2 linked regions of the Homo sapiens genome follow. The protein of the gene in region 2 purifies or fractionates together with the protein of the main gene of each other region. This does not show direct contact. Each region holds a gene or a part of one and is shown on either strand. Other genes may lie near its edges.

Region 1 (3,500 bases), on a different chromosome or scaffold from region 2:
GGCAGCTAGTATTGCTTCCTTGCATGGATACATAGGAGGGATACATTATAGATTAATAAATGATAGTGAGATAAACAAAATGATCTGTTGTGTATCTTTTACTTTACATTTGCTATTTACAGAGGAGTGTTGTATACATAGGTATTATTTTATGTCACACTGCTTCAGTGATAACTATATCCATGTGTTTGTATCCATGTTTTTATCCATTCAACTGTATTAAAAGGTGTTGGGACAGGAAAAAAAGTTGTATTACTAAGTACACACAAAGAGGTTCTTCAGGTAAACTTCAAAGTATTAGATAATACTTTAATAACATGGGCAAAGAGGATGCGGCAGAGTAAGAAGTGATGAAAATTATGCAGCTTCATGTTTAAAGTCTGGGCTATAAGAGTCCTGAGAGAAGGAAAGTATAGAAGAACCTTCTGAGTTGAAGGGCCAGGACTAGAGACATGAGCTCCTCCTTTATGGATATGACAGATTCTAAGCCAAGTAGTGCTTGCTAGCAAGACTGAGATGTAAAAATAAAAAAGTTTCAAAGCAAATATATTTCCCCAGCTCCTCCATACAAGCAGCTGTACTTCACTAAGCTACCAAGTTTAGCTGTAAGAAAGTAAGAAGTTTGCTAATGAAAAACAACTTTGTATTTTAATTTCCTCTTCAGGGACATTAGGGATCCTTTGTCTTTTTTCAGTGCTTTGAAATGTTCATGTAATGTCACAAGTCCTAAGACAATGGCTAGAGAAAATTAATATTTTATAAAATTCTATTAGTTTGAGGTTAAAAAGAAAAATCAACGGCAAATTTACCAACTTTTTCTTAAAAGCACAGTGAATCCAAAACAGATAAAAGACTACAAACCCTATAAAATGAATTTAGATTCATTTTCTACTGCAGAAACATTAAAAGTAATTTGGATGATTTCCTAAATCTTAAATGGTGCAAAAGGCGGTTTGCTTAATTATGATTGCTGGCGATGTGGATGAGTCCTCCTGTCTGCTATGAAAAATGTTCTTGCTCAGGGTCCCTTTTATGAAGATTCCTGGGAAAAATCATTTTCCAGTCCTAGTGTCAAGAACAGTTATACTATTGGTTAAAAATTCATTTACTTTTGGCATTGGCTATTAGAGAATTTCTGGCAGTGAGTTTAAACAGAATACTTGACTGCAAACAAGTTATAACAGTTACCCAACTGTGTCCTTCCTTTGCTGCTAAGTCAGGTTGCCTTTACTTTGAAAAAGGTAAAAAGGACAAAACATATCTACTTAGGCACGTGGAATCTTTTTGTTTAAAGTGTTTTTCTATTCGTTGCTACAGGTACAGAGTAAAAAAATAATAATCACAAAGGTTCTGAGAACTGGAAGGAGCTATGGTTCTCATCTCACTTCTAGAATTAACTATGAATCATGTCTTTTTCATCACCCATTCCTGGGGGCCCTCCATTCAGTGTTGCATGGTGAGAAGAATGCTGAAGAGCCAGGAGAGGAAGGCTCCTGTTTCAGCCCCACTACTAATTGGCATCTGGCTCTGTGACTTTCTTGCTTTGGGTCACAGTACCCTCAGCTTAAAATGAGGATGCTGGTCTGGACAATCTCTAAGGTTCTTCTAGAATGGACCTTGTCTTCATTATAGAATGATAGTTTAGGAACAGTGGGAACACATTTCCACTCCAGCCTCTGATTGAGGCCAGAAGTGAATACTCTACTCCACTATGGTCCCTGTGCCCAAAGCTCCAGCCCTCTAAGGATCTTGTTGCATAGCTATCAGCATTCTCCATGAACTCCTTTGTGACCAGCTCCTGAGCACAAGATTCTTTAACATTTCCTGTCCATAAGTGACCATCACACCCTGCAGGCAGCCAGGCTTTAGGCAGTGGAGAGACGCGGGGTTCCAGGAACCCTGCTTAAGCACGGCATGCTCAGGAGAGACTTTCTTACCAAACAGCTCAATGTAGACCTCTTGAAGCGTGTGCACACTGCAGAACTGGTTCAGTTCGTGGTGGATCTTGTTGAAGATGAGGGCCTTGTCATAGTCAGCAGTATAGTTCTTCACTATATCATACACTGAGAGGGAAGGAGAGGGCTTGGCATAAGAAAAGGCAAGACTCAAAATGCCCTCAGACACGGCAGCTCTCCTTTTCCAAGGTGCTACAACAGACACGGGAGTGGCATGCTGGGGAAAGTGAGCTGGTGGTGGGAATAAACTGTTAAGACGTACCTGCGTTCGGGACCAGGAAGTTCACCACTTCAATTCTGTCAAAGTAGATCATCACACCACCACTATTGGAGGGAGAATGGACAAGAAGTCACTGGGAAGCCTTAGAATATGGTGCAGTCCCCCAGGGTGATGGCGTAAGATGTGGGGCTTGGCAGAAAAGGAGTAGAAGAGTTCACGGGAAGTTGGAAGGCAGCTTGGATCTCCAAGTGGGAGGTTCTGCAGGGCTCATGGCAACAACATACTCTCCTGAGAAATCACACTGCCTAGGAACATCTCTACAAAGACATGAATGAGACTTTTGGGGACCAGTACGAAAGAGTAACTCATATCTTTGGAATCAGCAATGCCTTTTGATTAATCAGTTGCACGGAAAAGACTAAGGAGGGTCAAGGTGAAGTTTTCAGAACTTAGAAGGTTACTGTGGAATGTTATGATCAATGTTTCTTAAACTGTCTTCACTATTACTTTGGTGTCACACTCCCTTTGCCCTCAAATATTTATTATAAAAAGATTTCAAACATAGAGAAGCCGAAAGAGTAGTATAACTAACATCCATATCCAGATACCTGAATTCAACACTGATAACATTTTACCTTATTTATTGACCTTTTTTTTTTCTGAACATTTCAAAGTAAGCTGCAGTTAGGATACTTTACTCCTTTACTTTGGTGAGCACTGTCTTAAGAATAATCATTCTCCTACACACTCATGGTATCATTCCCAAGCCTAAGAAAATTAGCAATAATTCTGTAATATCACCTAATACCCAGTCCTTATTCAGATTTCCCCAACAGTTTGTGTTATGGACTGACCTGTGTATGCCTCGCCCCCAGATTCATATGTTGAAGCCCTAACCCCCAATGTGACTGTATTTGGAGATTAGACCTTTAAGAAGGTAATTAAGGTTAAACAGGTCATAAGGGTGGGCTGTAATCCAAAAGGTCTGGTATCCACCAAAGACCTTTTTCTCTCTTCTTGCACATACAGAGGAAAGGCCTTGTGAGGATGTGACAAAAAGGTGGTCACCTGCAAGCCAGAAAGAGAGGTCTCACCAAAACTACCCCTGCTGTTACCCGGATCTTGGACTTTGGGCCTTCAGAATGGTGAGAAAATATCTATTATTTTAGTCCCTTGGTGTGTAGTCCTCTGTCATGGCAGCCTGAGTGGACTCATATAGTTTCTGTCGTATCTGTTATAGCTGTTAATTTTGAACCAGGTTCTAATCAATGCTCACCCTTGCTTCTGTTTATGTTTCTTGTAAGTCTCTGTCCAATCCAGCATCC
Region 2 (4,049 bases):
AGGTGGGGCTGGGAGCTTGCACTAGGGTGCACACAGGAACCCCAGATCCTGCCCTCCTCCAGGGGGCCCAGGAAAACCCAGGCACCCCTTCCACCATCCCCGAGGGTGCAAAACTTCCCCAGCTGGGGATGGGGGGCACAGGGATGAGAAGCGGGTGGCCTGGCAGACAGAACCCAGAGGGGGTGTAGGCCTCCGATGGCCTCTGCAAACGACCTTCCGAAACGCACCAATGAAGATGCAATTTGGGGATGTGACTCAGCCACCCGACGCATGGGCCAAATTCAGCCGTGTGTCTGCCATGTTCCTCCTCGCCTGGCAGCCGCGTCCTAAGGTGCCCTGGGCAGGGAGGGGGTGGGGAGGAGGAGAGAAATGGCAGGTGGCTTCCAAGAGGGTGGAGGGGTGGAGGGGTGGAGGGCTTTCCCGGCACCCACCACATTACTGTGGACCGGGCTCTTACTATGCTTTGAGCCTGAGATCAGGGTGATCACATTTAATCCCTATCACCACCGGTGAGCAAGGTGGCATTCCCGTTCCCATTTTACAGACGGGAGACAGAGCTCAGAGAAGCTCAGCACCTTTTGCCCAAGGTCACCCAGCCAGGAAAGGCAGGGACTAAATTAGTGCCATCCAGGCGTGGCAGGTGGCAGGGTCTGCTTTCTGGGAGGGGAACTGGCCTGGTCCTGCCGTCGAGAAGCCACTAGCTTGGAGCACAGAACTGATGAGTGCCTGGGCCTTCCCCATTCCTGGGTACACATCCCCTCCCCCACTGCAATCTGGGCCTAACACTGGAGTCCCTGGGACCCTCAGGGATTCCCAGAGACCCAGGAGCCCCTGGGAACCCTCAGCCAAGGTTTGGATGCCCATGAAAGGGTATGTTTTTCTGGGTAACAGCCCTGGGTTTGCCAAGTGAGGAATACCACCCTATTAGCTAGGTATATACCTAGTTCCAGCTATTCAAGAGGCCAAGGCAGGAGATCACTTCAGCCCAGGAGCTCGAGACCAGCCTGGACAACTAGCAATATCCCATCTCTAACAAACAACAAACATCCTACGGGGTGTATTTGGGTTGGAAGGTCTTTGATATTGCCTTACTTTTACTACTCTGTCTGGTCATGAGAGCTCCCTTCCCTGAAGCCTGGGGTGCAGGGGATGAGCAGAGACCCACTTCCACACCCTCCCTGGAGACACACACTTCTGGGGGAACCTCGTGTGCCTGGGGGGACCCATGAGAGCTCTTGAGGAGAGGATGAGGGTAGCAGGGAGCAGGGCTGATGGCTCCTTAGATTCCCCACCCAACAGGACATGGGAAGAGACAGAATCCCAGTCAGGCCCCCAGGGCCCTCCAGCGAGCATTTTTACAAATGACAGGTTGGTTGAGGCAGCCACTGAGAAGGGGCCCTAGGTACCCCTGCCAGGGAGCAAGTTACTGCCCACTCCTTGGCCACCTGCTTTGTAAAGATTCCTCATGGTGCCTCCCCCCCACCCCCCCACTACGAGGGTTGGTGTCCAGAACAGAGTAAGATCTCGCATGGCAAATGCTTTGCAGTCTGTAAGAGCTTCATGCCATTGATTTCTGTTCTTCAGAACTGGACCAAGAGAAGGTGCTCCCTGCCCCTCAATCCCCAAGGCAGACCGCCCCTGCTCCCCAGATGCACACCCAGGGGCTTCCGGGTACCACAACCAGATCAGCACACAGCAGAAACTTCTGGGACATGTGGGCCTGTTGTGGGTCCCCAGCGGGCGCAGCCAGAGTCCGGGTGTCCCTGCTGAGGTTGAGGAAGGTCTCCGAGGATCCCCCTTCCCGCCACCACCCCCACCCCTCCCTTCCCCTCCCCTCCCCCAATAATCACAGGGCCCTAGCTCTGCAGGGCAGACAGACACTGCCTGCCCTCCCGTCCCATGGGCCGCCCAGGAGCCAGTGCAGCAAGGCGCTGGCTACCCGCCCGATCCCCCCATCACCACCCGCCAGGAGCCTGCCAGCAGCCAGCAGGGTGCAATTAGCCTGCTCTCCTGGAGGCTGCCTCCCTCGGGGGCCCTCCATTCTGATGCATCTCCATCAGCCTCACCGCTCAGACCCCAGCCTCGGGAACTCCCATCTGCTGGCCAGCCCTCCAGAACAGCAGGGGCAGTGCCCCGAGCTGGGTCCGGGACTTCTGTCCGGGGAGAGATGGAAGACCCGGTTTCCTGACCCCTCCCTGAGTGCCCCAACCCCTGGATCCAGGGGCCAGTGGTGGGTCACCTCCCTCCCATTCCCAAGTCATTGCGGGTCACTGTCCATCCCTGAGAGCTCCCCGACCTCCAACCCTATCTATGCAGTTTGGAGACTCACAGCTCTGCCCTCCCCCAAAGTGAACCCTGCACCCTCCCCCTCCCAGGATGGGGGTGCGTGGATCCTCACTCACTCGGGCAATGTACATGCATTCATTCCCCCCACCTTTCCTGTGTCTCCTAGGCTCCGGACCGCACGGAGACCCTCCCTCTTGGCCCCTGCCCCAAACCGCGTCCCCCTCCGAGACGTGCCTCCCTCCTCGGGCTCCCTGAGCTGCAGATCCTGGATCCTCCCGCACCCTCACCCATCCCACCCTGTACCTGCGGGGCTCGGCCCGAGCGGGCGGACAAGGCTGGAGGGGAGAGGGTCCCGCGCGGCCGCGGACCCCCAGTCGGGAGCCGGAGCCGGGGTCGCGGACGGGGCGGGCAGCAGCGAGCGGGCGCGGGGCCCGGGGGCGGCGGGGCCGGGGGCGGCGGCGGCAGGCGCATCCCCCGCCGCCCAGTCCACGGGCCCGGCGGGGGGCGAGCGCCCGCCCGGGCCGGGAGAGAAGGGGGCGGTGCGACGCGGGAGCCGCCGCCGATTGGCCGAGCCCGGGTTGGCACCGCCTTCGACGACCCCGCAAGCCCCGCCCATATTTAAAGATCCCACATTCCCCGGCGCCCCCTGCAACCCCCCGGCATGCGGCTGGTCTTCGAACTCCCCCTCTTGCCCCATAAGACGGGAAGGACCTTGGTGAAGCTCCAACCCCCGCCCCCAACAGCCCTCCGGACCTCCTAACTATACCCCCTCCCCAAAATTAGGTCCCAAACTTCAGCCGCTCTGTCAACCTTTGCACGCCTGGGGACTGTCCTCCCCGTAAGCATCAGCTGAAAGACAACTTTGCAAAGCAACTCAATGCCTGCCCCTCAAACGACCTCCTCCGGGGTCTAGCTCTGCATAGGGGAGCCTTGAGGGGGACTAGGGTGATTGCAAGTTGGGGGGTGTCTGGGAGCCAGGTGTAGGGCCTTCCAGGGGTGGGACTGGGTACATGCTGGGGCACTCGGTTAGAGGCCACCTTCTGTGGGAGGAGAGACGCCCGTCTGGATCAGGCCACCCAGTCCTAACCTCCAACACCCATTTCCAGGATGACAGGAAGCCAGAGCCCCAGGGAGTTTGGGATCACCAGGGCTGGGGGTCCCCAAAACTGTGCTCCTTCCCCCAGCACCCAGGCTGAACTTGGCCGACTCATTCATTCAAAGTTAATGGCGGCTCCAGGGAGCTTTGGGGACCAGTGGGTAGGGAGCTCTTCCTTCCTCCTCTTCCAGTCTTACTGCCTCTGCCTCTGCCTCACCCTGTTCCCACCAGGCTTGGGGTGACTGTGTTCAGCTCTGTCCCCCACCAGCCTGGGGGCTTCCTGGAGCCAGCAGATCCCACCTCCTATCTCTCTCCCACACCCTCCATCTGTTTTCTTCCCAGCCCAGAGCTTTGGCCCAGGTCAGGAACATCTGAGTGTTTATTCCTGAGGGAGGCTGTCTTCTGTGTTTCCTCTGCGGAGCTCAGAAAACAGTTGGACTGAAGGAAGGAAGGAAGGAAGGAAGGAAGGAAGGAAGGAAGGAAGGAAGGAAGGAAGGAAGGCAGGCAGGCAGGCAGGCAGGCAGGCAGGCATGAATGAGGGATAGCTGCATGGGCTGAGGGTGGCGGTGAGTCACAGAGGGGCCAGGTGATGGCTCAGAGTCTCAGACAGGACCTTTGTTCCCTCCCCTGGAGAGCCCGTTCCTCATCCCAGCCTGTCCAGACTGCT

Evidence for each region.
Region 1: the proteins of KCNN1 (region 2) and ERLIN2 purify together in Homo sapiens (affinity purification with western blotting; one study listed by BioGRID). This does not show direct contact.

Annotation. Positions count from the first base shown.
Region 1 is NC_000008.11:37,743,134-37,746,633, reverse strand, and holds part of ERLIN2 (erlin-2), read right to left. Parts: intron 2,280-3,500; coding exon 2,218-2,279; intron 2,064-2,217; coding exon 1,938-2,063; intron 1,066-1,937; coding exon of another isoform or gene 1,031-1,065; exon of another isoform or gene 84-1,030; intron 81-83; exon of another isoform or gene 1-80. UniProt on the Homo sapiens protein: Component of the ERLIN1/ERLIN2 complex which mediates the endoplasmic reticulum-associated degradation (ERAD) of inositol 1,4,5-trisphosphate receptors (IP3Rs) such as ITPR1.
Region 2 is NC_000019.10:17,965,858-17,969,906, reverse strand, and holds the start of KCNN1 (small conductance calcium-activated potassium channel protein 1), read right to left. Parts: upstream 2,801-4,049; 5' UTR 2,758-2,800; coding exon of another isoform or gene 2,590-2,757; intron 1-2,589. UniProt on the Homo sapiens protein: Small conductance calcium-activated potassium channel that mediates the voltage-independent transmembrane transfer of potassium across the cell membrane through a constitutive interaction with calmodulin which binds the intracellular calcium allowing its opening.